Regions from separate parts of the Homo sapiens genome. Here all the other regions are reported to be linked to region 1. Evidence: microRNA targets listed by miRTarBase, many of them from high-throughput screens and not tested one by one. Region 1 holds a microRNA gene; each other region holds the end of a gene's coding sequence.
The links. The annotated mature microRNA hsa-miR-6829-5p reads UGGGCUGCUGAGAAGGGGCA and lies in region 1 at 1,260-1,279, opposite strand. An mRNA with a match to its seed (bases 2 to 7 or 8) in the 3' UTR can be bound and repressed. Matches are read on the target gene's strand: a 7mer-m8 pairs with bases 2 to 8, a 7mer-A1 pairs with bases 2 to 7 and ends in A, and an 8mer does both.

Region 1 (4,000 bases):
ATCTATCCCTGTAACACCCCCCCAGCAGTGCCCCTTGGAGAGGACACAGCATCTATCCCTGTAACACCCCCCCAGCAATGCCCCTTGGAGAGGACACAGCGTCTATCCCTGTAACACCCGCCCCCAGCGATGCCCCTTGGAGAGGACACAGTGTCTATCCCTCTAACACCACCCGCCAGCAATGCCCCTTGAAGAGGACACAGGATCTGTCCCTCTAACACCCCCCCAGCAGTGCCCCTTGGAGAGGACACAGCATCTATCCCTGTAACACCCCCCCAGCAGTGCCCCTTGGAGAGGACACAGCATCTATCCCTGTAACACCCGCCCCCAGCGATGCCCCTTGGAGAGGACACAGGATCTGTCCCTCTAACACCCCCCCCAGCAACGCCCCTTGGAGAGGACACGGCATCTATCCCTGTAACACCCCCCCCAGCAATGCCCCTTGAAGAGGACACAGCATCTATCCCTGTAACACCCCCCCAGCGATGCCCCTTGAAGAGGACACAGCATCTATCCTTGTAACACCCCCCCCCCAGCAACGCCCTTTGGAGAGGACACAGCATTTATCCCTATAACACCCCCCCGCCAGCAATGCCCCTTGGAGAGGACACAGGATCTATCCCTGAAACACGACCCCCAACAATGCCCCTTGGAGAGGACACAGCATCTATCCCCGTATCACCCCACCCAGCAAAGCCCCTTGGAGAGTCCCACAGCATGTATCCCTGTGATTTCCAGCACCCAGACCCTGGCACGTGGGCCCTCAAGAATTCCTAGATGGATGGTGAGCGAATGGGTGCAAAGGAGGGCACCCCAGGCTTAGAACAGACAAGGGCAGGCCCAAGCAAAACCAGGGGCTGTGGTGGGTCCAGAAAGCCCCAGAAGCTTTGAGGCCTGGGTCTGCAGGGACTCTGTGAGCTGGCAGCACCTGCCCCTCACCAGGCGAAGGGCACCTTGCGATGTTCCTGCATGACGTAATGGTCGTCATTCTGAGGTAGTGCTCGCATCAGCCCAAAGTCCCCGATCTTGACCAGGTCGCGGGTAGCCAACAGCAGATTGCGGGCAGCCAGGTCACGGTGAATAAAGCGCTTGGACTCCAGGTAGCCCATGCCCTCAGCCACCTGCACAGCGTAGCGGCTCAGAGTCCCCAGGAGGAAGTGGCCCTGGTGCTTACGTAGCCGGTCCAACAACGATCCCAGAGGTGCCAGCTCTGTCACCTGAGGCCACGGAGGAGGCAGGAGGAATGAGCTGGAGGACCCTGCCCCTTCTCAGCAGCCCACGCTGGGCCCCCAGTCCCCTTCCTGAAGGCTTTCCAGAGCCAGGCTGCACGCACCTTCCTGGCCTGCTGTCTGGGGACCTCTAGGAGTCCTGCAGTTTCTCAGGCCTCTCCCTCGAGGCAATTTGGGAAACTGATGCCTAGAGAGAAGGAGCCCAAAGAGGCAGTGGCTAGAAATTCCAAAACTCAGCTGGACGTGGTGGCTCACGCCTGTAATCCCAGCACTTTGGGAGGCCGAGGTGGGTGGATCATTTGAGGTCAGGAGTTTGAGACCAGCCTGGCCAACATGGTGAAACCCCGTCTCTACTAAAAATACAAAAATTAGCCAGGCATGGTAGCGCACGGCTGTAATCCCAGCTACTTGGAAGCCTGAGGCAGGAATATCGCGTGAACCCAGGAGGCCGAGGTTGCAGTGAGCCTAGATCATGCCATTGCACTCCAGCCTGGGCGACAAAGTGAGACTCCATCTCAAAATAAATAGATAAATAAAACATAAATTCCCCAAATTAAACTCAGTGGCCAGCCCCTCCCATGGGAGTAACTCTCTTGACACTGAGCACCAGCAAAATCCAGAGACAGACCCGGACTGGACCGCAGCAGACACAGCCCGTACCAGGCTGGGCCCCTGTGGACCCCTTTACTCCATCAGGTTGGGGGACCAAAGTAGGATCTAGGGCGCCTCTGACCTTAGGATGGAGAGAGGAACCGAACCACACATATGGGACCGGAGCCCTCTCCCTGCCCGCCCCCTCCCGCCCGCAGTACTCACCATCTTCATGGGCGGCGTGAGCACCACCCCGTAGAGGCGGATGAGGTTTCGGTGGTCGAGCGAGTGCATGGCATTGACCTCCCGGATGAAGTCGTCCATGGCTTCTGGCTGGCTCAGGACATCGGGCTTCAGGCACTTCACAGCCACACTCACCTGCCCAGAGCGGGATTTGCAAGGACTCAGGACTTGCCAGGTCCCAGACACGCGGAGCCAACCTGCTCCACCCTCCAACTCGGCTCAACGATCCCTGCCTGTGAGCTCCTCATCTGGGTGGGTAAGCATGTCACCAGTGCCTGGGCTTACGTGCTCTGCGTGAGGCCTGGCTGGAGAAGGGCAGACGGCTGGCCCTCAGGAGCCATCGTCGGCCACACCTCCCCTTCCTGGGGGAATGCCGGGCTTAAATACCAACCAAAAAGTAAGAGATAACCAGTATGATGAGAGAATATTCAAATGTTATAAAATGGAATTTTTTTTTTTGAGACAGTCTCGCTCTTGTCGCCCAGGCTGGAATGCAGTGACGTGATCTCAGCTCACTGCAACCTCTGCCTCCCGGGTTCAAGTGATTCTCCTGCCTCAGCCTCCTGAGTAGCTGGGATTACAGGCAGGTGCCACCACGCCTGGCTAATTTTGTATTTTTAGTAGAGATGGGGTTTCTCCATATTGCTCAGGCTGGTCATAAAATGGAATATTAAAAGGTGTTTTGCTGTAGAAGGAAAATGCTGTAAATGTAATGCCAAAAACAAAGCTGTGGAGCTGGAAGTCTGCACAGCGGCTTCCCCGGGAGAAGGATGCACTGAGTGACAGCGGCTTCCCCGGGAGAAGGACGCACTGAGTGGACGGAGAATGAGGAGCCCTCTGAGGTGCTGGGAATGCACCGCACGTGATCTGAGCAGTAAGGACACGGCTGCTGCACAGGAAACAGTCACACCAGAACTGTATGCTGTGGTGACACGTTATCCCTGAGGGGAAAATGTTAAATGCAACGCCGAGAAGAAAGAACAAGATTTTAAAAGCTGTATCCAGAATTTGTATCTTAACTAAATCCAACAAAATACCTAAAGTGGGAGGAAGAGGCTCGGCTTCCTCTGAGTGGTGGGATTACAGGCGATTTTTTTTTTCTTGTTTTTCAAATACTTTCCAAACTTTTATAATAAATTATTTTTATAGTTGAAATAATAAATGTGCTTAGTTAAACCTGAGCATGGGCTGGACGTGGTGGCTCACACCTGTAATCCAAGCACTTTGGGAGGCTAAAGTGGGCAGATCATCTGAGGTCAGGAGTTCGAGACCAGCCTGGCCAACATGGTGAAACCCCGTCTCTACTAAAAATACAAAAATTAACTGAGTGTGGTGGTGCATGCCTGTAATCCCAGCTACTCAGGAGGCTGAGGCAGGAGGATTGCTTGAACCCGGAAAGTGGAGGTTGCAGGAAGCCGAGATCGTGCCTACTGCACTCCAGCCTGGGCGACAGAGCGAGACTCCATCTCAAAAATAAATAAATAAATAAAACCCCAAAAATCCTGAGCACGGACTCTGGGATGAGCCACACTGTGACGCATCCCCAGTCCCATCCACACCCTGGTTGGGGGCAGAAGAGCCACTACCAGCCCCGGGTCCCATGCCTCTGCTGCGCTGGCAGGACACAGAGAGCTCACCGTCTTCCCTGAGGGCGCGTCCCACTCGCCCCTGCGCACCACGCCAAAGGAACCATCACCCAGCTTCTCCAGGAGGCGCAGGTCCTTCTCCCCAATGAGGCAGGTGAGGCTCTGCAGGGGCCCCTCCCCTGCTGGGCCCCCAGGGGCGGGCGAGGTCTTCCGGAAGGTGCTCTGAGAGTGATGAGGTGGGAACTCAGCCTCCAGTCGCTTTCCACTGAACACCTGTTTGAAGGCAGCCGGGGGCCAGATGGAATCCAACACCCCAGGGTCAGTCACTCAGTCCCACCCCGCTGGGTCCAC
Region 2 (7,288 bases), not on the chromosome of region 1:
GCCTGACACTGGTCCTTGCAAGGGACAGGGAGGTACTTTTCTCTACAGAATTGGTTTCCTCCTTGACAAAAAATGTGGCTAGATATAGGTCCGGGGCTTGGCCTGTTACCATCCATCCCAACCTAGCGACATTTACTTTTCTCCACAGGATCATTTTTCTCTTGACGAAGGTCGTCGCCTGTTTCTGGATTTCCCGATGGCCTGAGCATCATCCGCGCAGTGAACATCCTCCCTAAATCGGCTCGATCCCCTCTCCCCCAAAGGATCTAGCTAATTCTAAATCAAGCACAAACTTTATCTTCCTGTACTCCCTAGAGAGCACCTTCCGACTTCGGGGCTGGCTGCACCACTGCAATCCCGCGTAGCAGCCAAGCGTCCCTCTGGATTGTTCCCGCTTTTGCAGCAGGCCACACCCCCTCCAGCTCAGGCCCCGCTCACCTTGAGTTCTGGAGCACTTCCGGTCCGTAACCTGGGTCAGGGGTCCCCTGCCCAGGACCAGGGCTTGCCCGTCCGAGGGCAGGAAGATGGGGGGCGCTCCCCCAGGGGGGCTCTCGAGCCACAAGCGGCCCGGGGCCTCCACCTCGCCCATCCTGGGTGCCGGCCTGGGGAGCAGGTAAACGGGCTTGAGCGGCGCACAGCCCCAATTTGCTGCAGGAAGTCCCGCCTCCTCCCACATCCACTAGAAAGTTTCCCCACCATTAACTGCTCCGGAAGTCCCACCCGCTCGCCTTCCGCGGGTCGACCCGTTTCCCAGGCGACGACGCGTGCTCCATCCCTCCCCGAGTTGCAATCCCCACTTTCCAGCGTACAGGCAGAGAGCCTCGCACATGCCTCCGCCCCGCCCCGTACTCACCCGGGACCGCGGCTTGGGCTCACGGCCACTTCCGACCAGGGAGGTCCTGCCCGAGGTGCCCCGCCTGCAACCCGGCCGGCGGCGGTCGGTTCCTCGGCGGACGGAAATGACTCGTCCCCTCGTGGGTGGGGGGCGGGGCCTGGCCTCCTCCCACAGCAGCCACGCCCCTTCCCCGACTCCCGGCCCCCAGGGTCTCTCGGCAGCCCTGACCTTCATCTCTCTTGCTGCAACGCGAGGCTCAGGCCGGTAGCGGGGACTGGATCCTCCGTTAGCAGATTTGCCTCTTTCCACCTTGACTTCTAATTTTCATCCCAGGGAGGAAGATTTTTTTCCCATCTGATGGTCATTGTCAGTCGAGGAAACCTCCGCCCCCGACAGCGCCCCTAAGTCCTTCTTTGGCTTCACCCTCGATGTTCTAGTTTCCTCATCTATAAAAAGGATAATCGTTTCCGCTTCGTGGGGTTACCATGACGATTAAAGGAGCTAACACGTGACAAAAGCTTTAAAAAATGGGTGGTAGTGAGCCCTGTTTAAGTCTTTTTTTTTTTTTTTTTTTGAGACGGAGTCTCACTCTGTCGCCCAGGCTGGAGTGCAGTGGCGCGATCTCGGCTCACCTGCAAGCTCCGCCTCCCGGGTTGACGCCATTCTCCTGTCTCAGCCTCCCGAGTAGCTGGGACTACAGGCGCCCGCCACCACGCCCAGCTAATTTTTTGTATTTTGAGTAGAGACGGGGTTTCACCGTGTTAGCCAGGACGGTCTCGATCTCCTGATCTCGTGATCCGCCCACCTCGGCCTCCCAAAGTGCTCAGATCCGTTTAAGTCTTATTTAGTGTTAGCATTCTTTCGGTAGTGGTCTGGTGGGACTACGTTTACCTAGTCCTAATTTCGGACGAGGTTCCACCTGCTTTCTAACCTCCAGCCATTTTTTTTTCCCTTTGGAGAAGGGGTCTCACTGTGCTGCCCAGGCTGATCTCGACCTCCTGGTGTCATGTGATCCTCCCGCCTTGGCCTCCCAGCGTGTTGGGCTTATAGGCGTGAGGCACCAAGCCCAGTTGCTCCAGTCCTTTTATAATAGAAGACTCCCGGCTGGAGTTCCTGGCTTTGCTGGTGAATATGTGGGCTCTGTCTCCAACACTCACCTCCTCAAGATTGGGTTCCATGGTCACATAAGACTGGGATGCTCTCCTCCACCCCATGAACCTGTGTCTTCATATCTATAAAATGGGCACAAAGCCAGGCGCCGTGGCTCACGCCTGTAATCCCAGCACTTTGGGAGGCCAAGGCGGGTGGATCATTTGAGGTCAGGAGTTCAAGACCATCCTGACCAACATGATGAAACCCTGTTTCTACTGAAAATACAAAAATTACCCGGGCGGCAGTGGCGCGTAATCCCAGCTACTCGGGAGGTTGAGGCAGGAGAATCGCTTGAACCTGGGCGAGAGTGGGACCCTGTCTCAAAAAAGTAAATAAAATGGGCACAGTAATTCCAACCCCCAGCTATTCACTGATAATCAGACGCTGCCATTCGGTTTCAGAAAATGTTGAATGAACACTCACAACACACTTCACATTTATCTCAGAGGTAAAACTCTTTAATCTCAGAGCGCCCCTCCCAACTGCCGATCCCCCAACCCCTCACTCTCTCCCCCACACCAGGGCCGGAGAGTGAGGGCCCCTGCCCCCCACCTTGGGTGGACGAGGGCCCTTTAAGGCACCTGTGGAGGTGGGGGGCGAGGGGCGGGAGCTGGTACCATCCTGGATGCAGGGACGGGCTTCGATTGGCAGGCTGTTGTGGGGATGGATGGAACCAATGAAAGGGGGTGCCAGAGGCAGGGACAGTTTGGGGCCATCCCTGAGGGGGTCAGGGAACAAGTTGTCGGGACGTGGGCAAAGACGACCCCAGTCCCCGTAGTGTAAAGAACGTAAATTGAAGGCCCCGGGCCAATTCTGGGAAGAGGAGGGCTTGGCCACGCCCCCAGGAAGCTGGAGCCAATTGGGAGGGAGAACTCAGGAAAAGCGGACGGTGACTATGTAGAGACTGGTCAAGCCCTTTACAGGATTTGAGCCAATCAAAAAAAGAGCTGTCCAGCGACTAGGGGATGGAGCCAATGCCGTGCGAGCAAATCCCTTGTCGCTAGGCGGAAAACAAAGGAGTTGACCCATTTAGAGCTTAGAACTCAGCGAGCCAATCCCTTAATAGAAGGAATCTGTCGCTAGGCGGAGAGAGACGACAGACCCAATCGGGAAACGGGACAGATGCCGCTCCTCGGCGCGGCAGGTCGTGGGCTGGAAGGACGGCGGGGATTGGCAGAGGCGGGACAATCTTGGGAATGGGAGACGCAAGGAGGCCGGTCCCGGATCGGCCTCAGATTAGCAGGCCCCGGGAGTGGGGCGGGGGCGTAGTGTGGGACGGGGCGGACGCGGCCCGGGGCGCTCCCTCCCTGGACTTCAATATTTCCGCTTCAGCTTCTGGAAGTCGCTGGTGTTAAGCCGCGGCCGTGGCAGGTCCCCGAAGACCTGGGTGTCCTCGGCCTCTCGCAGCACCAGCGCGCGCATGCTCGCCGCGATGCGGTCCAGGTCGGGCGAAGAGGGCTGCGGGGACGGCGACGGGGCGAGGTCAGCGCCGGCAGGGCAATCCCCCTGCACCCACACGCGGTCCAGGGGTGCACCCGGGCTCCAAGCCCACTTCTAGCACGTCCCTGCCCTGCCACCTGTGCCCTGCGATGCCCACTGCCAGCAGTGCCCCTCCCCGTCTTGCTCCACGTAGGAACCCTTCTACCCGGTTCAGACACCTCCTCCACGAAGCCTACCTGCCCCTCTCCCTCTCCCCTTCTTGGCCTAGGACATTGCTTCCTACACAGTGGAAGTGCTGTTGCCTGCTAGCCATTAAGGCTGAGTGCACCGTCTCATGTCTGAGGATCTGGGCTGGGGTTTCAGTCATGTTCCAATCAGACCTCTGCCGCTGACAAACTATGAGCAAGAGGTTTTGCTTCCCTAGGCCTCAGTCTCCCCTTCTGAAAAATGGGGCGGATAACAGGGTCTCTGTGAGGGCTGAGATAATCAGCTGTTACTGCCTTATCATGTGGCCACTGCGCTACAGAAAAGATCCCTCGCTGTGTCAGCCCCCGCCAAGGAGCCTGCAGTTCTGGCACCTAGTACTGCCTCCACTACAGCCCCCGTCACCCGGAGCTGGGCCTGTCCCCTCGCAGGATGGGACCCGGAGACCCAGATCAGGAACTGGACCTGAGCCCAGTGGGAGACCAGCCCCCGGGCACAGCACGCAAGAGGCCAGAGCATTCAATTAACTGTGTTGCCATGAGTCGCAAGCACAGAGAGCAGCAGCAGGTGGACCCCGCCCGCACCAGGCCCTGTTCCTGGTCTTCAGTGCTCACTGCTTCATTGAGGGAGGATGCACAGAAAAGGTCACCACTGTGACTGCTGGTTTGCATATAAGGACACTGAGGCTTGAGGGGGGGACTGTGGGGACCCAGGCCTCCTCCCTCAAAGCCCACAGCTCCTTCCTGAAACACACCTGGGTTCCAGTCCCAGCTCTGCCTCTCAGGGAAGTCACATGTCCCCTCAGTGCCTCAGTTTCCCCTCTGCTTCAGGGAGGCTCAGTGAAGGGTGAGGAGGACCCACCTAGGCCAGCAGAGCCCAGCCCAGGAGCTTCAAACAGGGGTTGCTACAAGGGGTGAACAGGGGACCAGGGGGTGGGACAAATTCTGCAAAGGGCTAGGAATGTGCAGGGTGGGGATGGGAGGTGATCTGAACCCTCCAAGCCTCAGTTTCTCCACTGGAGGGCATGCCAAAACACCTGTGCCTTGCCCAGAGCAGGTGTTCTATAAATAGAGACGCTCCTGGAAAGGAGAGGCCTTCTCTATAAGGCACTAGGACACATGGTAAGGCTGCAATTGTTAAAACTGCAAGGCTCGTGTCCAAGAACTCGCCTCTTGAGGTTGAGGGGAGGATTCAGTTAGCTTATGGGTGGAAAGCAGCATCCATGCTGGAGGGCTTCCTGGAGGAGGCGGCTCAGAGCCCTTCCAGCTGCCCTCCCTACCTCCCCACATTTGCCCCTCACCGGCCCATTCTCCTCATCTGATGACCGCGCCTCTGTCCTCTTCTCCTTGAAGCCCCAGACGGGCACAGACACAGGCAGGGACTTGGCGTACTGCTGTGTGGGTAGGGCTGAGGCTGGGGGCACTGAGCAGGTGGGGGGGCCGGCGGGGGTCTCCTCGCTCAGGCTGCCATCTGAAAGAGAGGGTGGACTTCAGCTTCTGTCCCTGCCTTTGTGTCGGCCGTGTGCCTGCCCTCAGGTCGGGAGGGGAACAGCCTGGGACACTCACCATCTGTACTCTCGGGGTCTGACTCACAGAAGGGGGGAAGGTCCTGGAGGGTGGCGTCCTCATCCATCACAAAGAGCCCTGTGGATGACCTGAGTTAGAGGCCCAGGCCAGGCAGCACCTAGCCATGCTCCATGTGTCCTCCTCCTCAGCCACGGCCACTGCCACAGCCACCACCTCCACCTCCCTGAAGCTTCTGAGACCCATTTCCTTCACCTCAAAAACAACTTCCTCTAGCAGCCTGCCTGGTCATCGGCAAAAACCAACCCAGTTTCTATGGATCTGCCACCCTCTCAGCTGCACACAACGGGCTGCTAACATGAAACCTCTACGATCTGTTCGGGACAATGTGACTCAAAACACAGCCTTAGAGAAACATGCAATGACTATGACCTCTGTTTCACAAATGGAGACCTGGAGGCCCAGAGAAGTTAAGTCACTTGCCCGAGGTCCCATGGCTACTAAGGGACACCACCAGGATTTGAACTCAGGATGCCTGCCCTTCACCCTACACGGGTTTTCTCCAGCAATGGTGAGGAGGCCTGCCATTGGTAATAACAACAAACAAGGACCTCCTAGTGACTGATCAAACTCCTACTAACTCCGCAAAGCCCTAGCGTTACAGTCCAGCCTCCGGGAAGTGCCCGACCCCCAAATTCCCCCCAAAACAGCTGGCTGCTCCCTCCCTGGCTTCCTCAGATGTTGGCTGCATCCCAGACAACTCTTTAACTCCTGCTTGGCCTCCCAGGCGTTGTGGAAACGACTCTGGTTCTACCCATGACCTGCCCCAGAGCCTCCCAACCCCCACCGGGACTCCAGTTCCTTGGCTAGACCGGGAGCCCCTTGAGAAAAAAGCCCGAGCCTGCTCTGTGTCCTTGTGCCCACCACTCCCAGCACAGAGCTGGCCCCAGGACCAGTAAGGCTCAGAGCAGGGAAGGGACTGGCTTTAGATCACACAGCAAGCCCCAGGCAAGCCTGTCTGGCTCTGGGGTCCTGAGACTGCACTTCTGTAGAAGTACTCTGGGCTAAGCAGGCCCCCACCCCGACAAAGCCTCCTGCGGGCACCTCAAGCGCTGGGCCGCACCCGCCCCTGCCCCCACCCTCTCACCTCCATTATCACTAATGCCCAGCTGCTCCCCGGAGGTCTCTGTCTCTGTGGGCTCATCCTCGTCCTCCTCGTTGTCCTCTCTGGCCAGGGTAGGCCGGGGTGGGCTGGGTGTGGGACTGGGTGGCTGTGGTGCTGGTGGGGGCGCAGGAGGCCGAGCAGCAGTGGCAGCCCTGTGGGCCAGTGCGATGTCGTGGAGGCAACGGCGCGCTGCCTCCGCCAGGGCTCCTCGACCATGGGCAGCATAGGCACAGGGGCCCGGGCGGGGTGGTGGCGGCGGGGCCGCGGTCAGCAGCACCAGCTCCGTGCCAGTCCGGGCCCGGAAGCGCTCAGCGGCCCCCACCACGGCCTCCCACAGCTCCTCGGGGCGCCCCGACGCCATCCGCGCCCTGCGGGCCAGAGCAGGACAGAGGGGGCTGAGGCTTGGCGGCCTACATCATCGCCACCCACTCAGAGTGCCCGCCCGTCCCCTGGATGGCACTCACCACCCTCCACCCACCTTGTCCCAGCGGTGCTGTGTGTCCTCCCCAAACCTGCTACTCCCCAGGATTCTCACCATCCAGTCCTCGCAGGCCCAGACCCTGGCGACGTCCTCTGCCCCAACCCATTCCTCCTGCCCCAAGTCACTGTACTCCTTCCCCTTTGGCCCTGCCCTGGCCTCTGTGGGAGCCGCCAGCCACATGTGAACAGGGAGTACTGGAAAGGCAGGGAGTCCTAGCAGAGAGTCCTAGCAGAGAGGCCTCTAACAATAAAACCTGCACTGGGTTCTGAAGACTGAGTACAATAAAGCCGAACGAGCCGGGCGTGGTGGCTCAGGCCTGCAACCCCAGCACTTTGGGAGGCCGAGGCAGGCGGATCACCGAGCCCAAGAGTTCGAAGCCAGCCTGGGCAAAAAAAAAAAAAAAAAGGAATTTCATCTGCTTTTTTTACTCTTTTAACATGGTGTCTAGAAAATTTAGAATTCCACGTGGGGCTTGTGTTGAATTTGAT
Region 3 (7,288 bases), not on the chromosome of region 1:
TCCCACCTGGGCGACAGAGCAAGACTCCGTCTCAAAAAAGGTGGTTGGCGTTGGTGTACTAGGGCAGGAGCTATAGGCAGACTACGAAATTTGAACTGGCTCGAAAAGGCCAAAGAGATGGGCAAGGGCAGAAAACTGGATTTAACTGTGGCTGGGATTAGAGTTCCGAGGTGCAACCTAGTGGGGCAAATTAGAATAGACATGCGTACCCGATCAGCATTTTGGGACCGACGAAGTGCGAGCAAGAGGCCAAGCCCCTCTCCACCTACACTCCGTAGGAGTAAGATTTCGAATCTCAGATGGCCTCCCCTTCCCCCAGAGTGGGATTAGGATTTTGGGGGCAGAGCCAAGGAAGGACTGGTTAGAATAGCAGGCGTTGGCGAAGGAAAGGGGAGGGCGGGTCCTCTAGGACTGGCTTGGTGGAGGTTGATGAAGGCCGTGAGATGGGGCGGGGGTGGGAGAGGACAGTTTGCAGCCTTGGGTGGCGCGGGGGCCCAGACCCTCTGTCTTGGGCCACTTGTTGGTCGGGAGCCAGATCTCGCCACACCCGCGTTTCCTCGATTGTAAACGGTTATGTTGGGAGTGTTTGCTGCTGCGTGGGTCCGCTGAGAGGATTAGTCTGGGCCCCGTAAACCGCTTAGCGCCGAGCCTGCTGTGGCAAGGGCTCGAACTGGATGAGAGACGTGGCTAGACGGGGGAGGGGTGCTGGGCCGGGGGGGAGGTGGGAAGACTGCTCCCCTCCGCTGACTCAGCCCCTTCTCTCCTCAGAGGCAGGCCCCGAAGGCCAGGAGACGGCGGAGATCACCGACTTCCAGAGGGTGCGTTTCTGCAAGGTGGTGGCGGCCCCTCCGCTGCCGGGGGCCGCTCGCTGACCGCGCCCGCCGGACCGCGGCCTCCGCGCTCTGCACTAACCTCCCACCGCCTCGCTCCTCTGTCCTCTGCTTCTGCCACACTCCAGCCAGGAGAGGGTTAAATCTAAGGGGGGAGGAGCCAGGGTCTGCGAGCCGGGCGGGGCCAGGGCAGTAGTCGGGTGCAGGCCCCACCAACGGGGGACGTCACGGCACTGGGACGGCTGGGACGCTTCCGCGTTAGTCTCCCATGGAGGCCCTGGGCGGCTCGAGCCAGTCTTCAGGCCGAATCTCCCGCCTCCAGGATTGCATCCGAGGCCTGGCAGCCGGTGACACTTCCGAAGGGCTTGAATTACTCGGGCGCCAGCCCTGTCGTATTAAACGCAGTGCTTCCGCTCACCCTTGAACTGTGTTTCTGGAGGGGGCAGGCTGGGTCGCTGTGCTTGGCGGGCTTTTCTGTGGCGGAAGAGGCGGAAGGAAGGGGTCTTCCTCCACCCTTCTGATCCGTCTTCCCTCCCCCCTCCCGCAGGCCTCCCCGAATTCCTGAAGACGCTGCTGGGAGGGGACTGAAGCTTCCCCGCCTTGATGGGGAGGGGGCGTGAGGAGGGGTTTATCTGGATTTCCAGGCTGTGTTCTTTCTACCCCAGAGCCTAGTCTGGACCCCTTGGCTCTAGGGAGAGGGAAAAGCTGACCGTTGGGGAGGAGCTGGGAGAAGGGGCGCGATTGCGGTGAGGGGCGGAGCTGGAACCTCGGGGCCTGAGGTGCTGAGGATACCTGAAAGCGGGCTGAGAGTGTGCTGGAGGAGGCGGGTCCCGCGGGGGCGGAGCTAGGCTGCCTGGGCGGGGCCGGAATCCTGACAGGCGGAGTTAGAGCGGGGGGCGGGGTCAGCGCGCGCGGGTGGGGCTCTGGCCATGGGCATGGGGCGGGGCCGTCAGCGGGGGCGTGGTCGGGGTGTCGCGCGGGAACCCGCGCGGGAGGAGAGCGGGGATTCCGGAACTAGAGTGTGGGAGCCAGAGGCCGTAGCGGGCAGGGCTCGAGCACTGGAGTAGAGCAGTCCGACAGGTAGAGAAGTGAGACTGGCTGCGGCACAGGGCGGGTTAGGGCTCCAGGCAGGGCTTGAGCGGGACGAGGGGGCGGGCTCCGAGGCGGGCTAGATGCCTGGGCTGGATGAAGTCCGAGTCTGGGAAGAGAACCGTGTTGTGGCGGGAGGAGGCGGTGATTGGGGTGGTGGGGCTAAGCGCGGGGGCGGGGCTGGAGCGAGGGGGGCGGGGTAGCACCTCCGCCTGTCGGTGGTGGGGCGGAGGCTGGAGGGGGTGGGCCTAGGATGCGGAGGCGGCAGCTCGCGTGGGGGCGTGACCATGCTGGCGGGGGCGGGGCCGGAGGCGGGCGGTTTAGAGAGCGGGGCGGTCTGCGGGGTGGGGGCGGGGCCTGGTGGGGGCGGGGCCTGTGCGGTCTGCGGCGCGGAGCCGAGTGGGCTGCGGGGATGCGGGGGACCAGCTGCGTGGGCGGCGGCGCCGAGAGCCCCGGAGGCGCGGGGCTGAGCGAGGGCCCGCGGGGGCGCTGGCTGCGCTTGGCTCCGGTATGCGCCTACTTCCTCTGCGTCTCGCTAGCTGCCGTGCTGCTCGCCGTGTACTACGGTCTCATCTGGGTACCCACGCGGTCTCCCGCGGCACCCGCCGGCCCACAGCCCAGCGCGCCGTCCCCTCCGTGTGCTGCCCGCCCGGGCGTGCCGCCTGTCCCGGCGCCCGCCGCTGCCTCCCTCTCCTGCCTCCTGGGAGTCCCCGGCGGGCCGCGACCCCAGCTCCAGCTGCCGCTGAGCCGCCGCCGCCGCTACAGCGACCCTGACCGCCGTCCGAGCCGCCAGACACCCAGAGAGACGCCAGAGGCCGCGGAGGGGCGAAGACCCGGGTAACTCTCCCTTCCACCCCAACCCGGATCGCCAGCCCTCGAGAGCTCTGTGCTCCACGCCGAGGATGCACCGTCTCTGGATTGGTCCGGCCTTCTTCCTAATGACATCGCTCAGCGTCTCTGGAGCCGTCATCCCGCGGAATGGGGGCCCAGGGGGTGTCAGCTCGGGGCCTTGCCTCTTGCAGCTACTCTGTGGTCAGGCCGGGTCCTCCACCATCAGGAAGATCCCATCCTGAGCTCTGTCTCCTGCCCCTCCTGCTGTGGGATGCTGAGCACAGAGCCCACAGCCCATCTGCCTCTTCACCTCCCTGAATCCGTGTCCATCTGCAATAAACGACAGCCTCGGCTGCCTCGTGCTGTGTCTGTCCTGTTGTCTGCAGAGATGCCTCCCCTCCCAAGTTTGTGTGGGAAAGACCTTCCTGGGGTGTGGCCTTTGTCTGTTTTGTCCCGGGTGGGCTGTTCCCCTTCCTTAAGGAGCTCTTCTTTTCTTGGAGTAGGGAGAAGCAGCTTAGCAGCAGCAGGGCCTTTGAAGGTCAGACAGTGGGAAGGGCTTCCCAGTTTTTTGTGTGCTTGGAGCAAAGGACAAATGTCTCTGGGGAGAAGCAGAGTGTCTGCCCTCGTGTTACAGCACAGGAGACAAGAGGAGGGGTGGGGTGATATAGGACAATAGCTGGGGTTCTGGGAATTGCTGTTGGTGTAATTATCATGTCAGGGACAGAGGCTGAATCACCCAGGGATCTCAGTTGGCTGCCGAGAGGGAACGATGCTGGCCCACTTCCTGGGGTCAGAGAGATGAGAGTGGATGGCGGCGGCGGTGGTGTTGCTTCTCAGCCTGTCTGGAAATCTCAGAGCCAATGACCAAAGCGCTGTGCTGCCTTGGAAGACTGGTGCAGCCTCTGGCCTGGGGCGCTGCTAGGAAACCAAGGCCGGGAAACTGAGGTCTAGCTTCTGGGCAAGGAGTCCGAGGTGGGGAGGCCATGTTCCATCCTGGAAGACTGAGGCCTGGCTCTGGACAGGGCCTGGGATCTGACATGCAGGAAGCTGGTTCCTGTCCAGCCTCCCCGCTTGAGCTGGAGGCCTTCCCAGGAGAGTGAGGCTGAGCATCTTCTCCCACGCTGTGGCTCCTGGAGATCTGTGGAGGTGGTTAGGAAGGTCAGCTGCTCTGCTCACCTCCCCTTTACCCCACCACCACTCCCCAGAGGGTGGTTGTGAAGGGGAATCTAGGAAGCCAGCACTTCTTTGTAGTCAGCATAGGTGATAGTTAGGGGCACTGACTGGGGCGAGACTACTCGGGTTCAAATTCCAGCTCCTCTCATTACAAACTGTGTGACTTTGGGCAGGTCACTTGACCTCTGTGTTTCTTTTTTTTTTTTTTTGAGATGGAGTCTTGCACTGTTGCCCAGGCTGGAGTGCAGTGGCATGATCTTGCTCACTGCAACCTCCGCCTTCTGGTTCAGGTGAGTCTCCTGCCTCAACCTCCTGAGTAGCTGGGATTACAGGTGCCCACCACCACACCCAGCTAATTTTTTTTTTGTATTTTTATTTTTTATTATTTTTATTTTGAGAGAAGTCTCACTCTTGTCCCCCACGCTTGAGTGCAATGGCTCGATCTCTGCTCACTGCAACCTCCACCTCCCAGGTTCAAACAATTCTCCTGTCTCTGCCTCTCAAGTAGCTGGGATTAAGGCCCCTGCCACCACGCCTGGCTAATTTTTGTATTTTTTAGTAGAGACGCGGTTTCACCATGTTGGCCAGGCTGGTCTCGAACTCCTGACCTCGTGATTTGCCCACTTGGGCCTCCCAAAATTCTGGGATTACAGGCATGAGCCACCACACCCGGCCTCTGTTTCTTTTTTTTTTTTTTCTTTTGAGACGGAGTCTTGCTCTGTCGCTCAGGCTGGAGTGCAGTGGTGCAATGTCGGCTCACTGCAAGCTCCGCCTCCTGGGTTCATGCCATTCTCCTGCTTCAGCCTCCTGAGTAGCTGGGATTACAGGCGCCCGCCACCACGCCTGGCTAATTTTTGTATTTTTAGTAGAGACGAGGTTTCATCATGTTGGTCAGGCTGGTCTCAAATTCCTGACCTAAGGTGATTTGCCCACTTTGGCCTCCCAAAGTGCTGGGATTACAGGCGTGAGCCACTGCACCCAGCCTTATAACTTATTTAAAATTTTTAAGCATTTTTTGTTTGTTTGTTTAATAGAAATGGGGTTTCACACTATGTTAGCCAGGCTGGTCTTGAACTCCTGGGCTTAAGTGATTTTCCTACCTTGGCTTCCCAAAGCCCTGGAATTATAGGCATGAGCCACTGTGCCTGGCCCTGCCTCTGTGGTTCTGTAGAATGAAGATGCTAATGGTACTTCTTCATAGACTTGCTCTGAGGAATAAATAAACTGGTGATCTCAAGCCCTGAGAACGATGTCACATGTTCTCTCTCTCCACCACCTCTGTCCCTCAGGGTTTAAAAGCCCCAGCTGGGATCCTCTGGGGATAGCAAGTCAGTCCAAAGCCCTGGCCACCAGCAAATGGTGAGTTTGAGGGAGGGGCCTCTCCATTTCGGTTCCCACTGGCCCCCCTCTCTTTGGTTTTCATCTCTCTTCTCCCAGCCCCATTTTTTCCTACTCTTTCGTTTCCTTGTTGCTGTGTGTCCTGGCTCTTTTCTCTTTCTGTGTTTGTCTCTCTGCGTCTCAGTCTTTCTGTGTCCTGTTTATCTCTCTGGTGTCTCTTGGTATTGTTTCTCTCTCCCACTCTGTATGTCTCTGACTCATTCTGCTCATTCTGTGTCCTCCCTATTGCTCTCTGTCCCCAGCTCGTTCTTTTTTTTTTTTTTTTTTTTTTAGATGGAGTCTTGCTCTATTACCCAGGCTGGAGTGCAGTGGCGGTGGGATTACAGGCGCCCACCACCATGCCCGTATAATTTTTGTATTTTTAATAGAGAGAGGGTTTCACCAGAGTGGCCAGGCTAGTCTTGAACTCCTGACCTCAAGTGAGCTTCCCGCCTCGGCCTCCCAAAGTGCTGGGATTACAGGCGTGAGACACTGTGCCCAGCCCCAGCTGATTCTCTTTCTTCTCTCCTCCACACTTATCTTACCCCAACACTTTCTTCCACCTTGCTCCCCTTCCCCTGCCCCCGCACCCCACAGCTTCCAGGTCCCTAGTCTCAGTGTCCCCTGTCTCCTTCCCTTTATCTCTTCCTTTTCTCCTCCTATTTCTCTTGGTTTCTCTTTTGGTCTCCATTGTTTAATCTTCCTTTTAACAAATATTTTTTGAGGCTGGGCACAGTGGTTCTTGCTTGTAATCTCAGCACTTTGGGAGGCCAAAGCCAGAGGATCACTTGAGGCCAGAAGTTAGAGACCAGTCTGTGTAACACAGCAAGACTTCATCTGGACAAAAAATTAAAAAATTAGCTGGGTGTGGTGGTGCATGCCTGTAGTCCCAACTACTCAGGAGGCTGAGAGGAGAGGATTGCTTGAGTCCAGGAGGTCGAGGCTGCAGTGAGCTATGATTGCACTACTTCACTCCAGCCTGGGAAACAGCAAGATCCTGTCTCTAAAAAACTAAAAAAACAACCCACCCAAAACCCACAATTATTTTTTGAGCATCTGCTGTGTGCCAAAGCTTATTTTAAACACTGGAGACACAGGAGTGAATAAAACAGGCAAAAATTCCTGCTCTCGGCTGGGCGTGATGGCTCATGCCTGTAACCCCAGCACTTTGGGAGGCCAAAGCAGGAGGATCACTTGAGGTCATGAGTTTGCGACCATCCTGAACAACATAGTGAGATCCTGTCTCTACAAAAAATACAAAAATTAGCCGGGCATGGTGGTGCATGCCTTGTAGTCCCAGCTACTCGGGAGGCTGAGGTGAGAGGATTGCTTGGAGGTCAAGGTTGCAGTGAGCTGTGACTGTACCACCGCACTCCAGCCTGGGCAAGAGAGCAAGACCCTGTCTCAAAAAAAAAAAAATTCCTGCTCTCAATGGAACTGAATATTAGTGGGAACACAGACAAGAAATTCAGTTAATAGCCGGGTGCGGTGGCTCATGCCTGTAATCCCAGCACTTTGAGAGACCTAGGAGGGCGGATCACCTGAAGTCAGGAGTTCCAGACCAGCCTGGCCAACATGGTGAAACCCCGTCTCTACTAAAAATACAAAAATTAGTTGGGCGTGGTGGTGGGTGCCTGTAATCACATCTACTTGGGAGGCTGAGGCAGGAGAATTGCTTGAATCCAGGATGGGGAAGTTGCAGTGAGCCAAGGTTGCACCACTACATTCCAGCCTGGGTGACAGAGTGAGACTCTGTCTCAAAGAAAAAAAAAAAAAATTCCTGTTCTTAATGGAACTAAATATTAGCGGGGACAAAGACAAGAAATGTGATTCATAACTTTGAGTGAAAGCAGGGTAAGGGTGATGGGGATGATGGAGGGTGTGGTTACTGGGTAGAAGCCCAAGACTGGTGAGGGTGAGGCTGGCAGGTCTCTGGGGGCTGAGGGAACAGTAAGTGCAAAAACCTTCGGGGTGGTGTGCCTGGCTTG

Region 2: the mRNA of AKT1S1 is a reported target of hsa-miR-6829-5p. Seed matches in the 3' UTR shown: 7mer-A1 at 3,136-3,142.
Region 3: miRTarBase lists INAFM1 as a target of hsa-miR-6829-5p. Seed matches in the 3' UTR shown: 7mer-A1 at 3,041-3,047.

Annotation. Positions count from the first base shown.
Region 1 is chr3:195,881,112-195,885,111 of GRCh38, forward strand. MIR6829 (microRNA 6829) reads right to left here and starts at 1,284; the gene lies at 1,218-1,284. It overlaps TNK2 (tyrosine kinase non receptor 2), which reads right to left. Exons shown (of 16, transcript NM_001382273.1): 4 at 3,701-3,922; 5 at 2,046-2,198; 6 at 940-1,217. RefSeq lists an enhancer at 2,175-2,675.
Region 2 is chr19:49,866,616-49,873,903 of GRCh38, forward strand. AKT1S1 (AKT1 substrate 1) reads right to left here. Exons shown (of 5, transcript NM_001098633.4): 2 at 6,302-6,687; 3 at 5,197-5,274; 4 at 4,932-5,101; 5 at 2,424-3,445. The coding sequence starts at 6,680. The coding sequence ends at 3,302. PNKP (polynucleotide kinase 3'-phosphatase) reads right to left here and starts at 961. Exons shown (of 17, transcript NM_007254.4): 1 at 854-961; 2 at 439-602. The coding sequence starts at 589. RefSeq lists enhancers at 1-416, 417-1,198, 3,397-4,044 and silencers at 358-727, 798-1,097, 3,172-3,481.
Region 3 is chr19:47,272,589-47,279,876 of GRCh38, forward strand. INAFM1 (InaF motif containing 1) reads left to right here and starts at 2,297. Exons shown (of 1, transcript NM_178511.6): 1 at 2,297-3,135. The coding sequence starts at 2,332. The coding sequence ends at 2,760. It also overlaps a transcript of CCDC9 not described here. RefSeq lists silencers at 679-988, 1,599-1,858, 2,219-2,668 and a cis regulatory region at 5,808-5,945.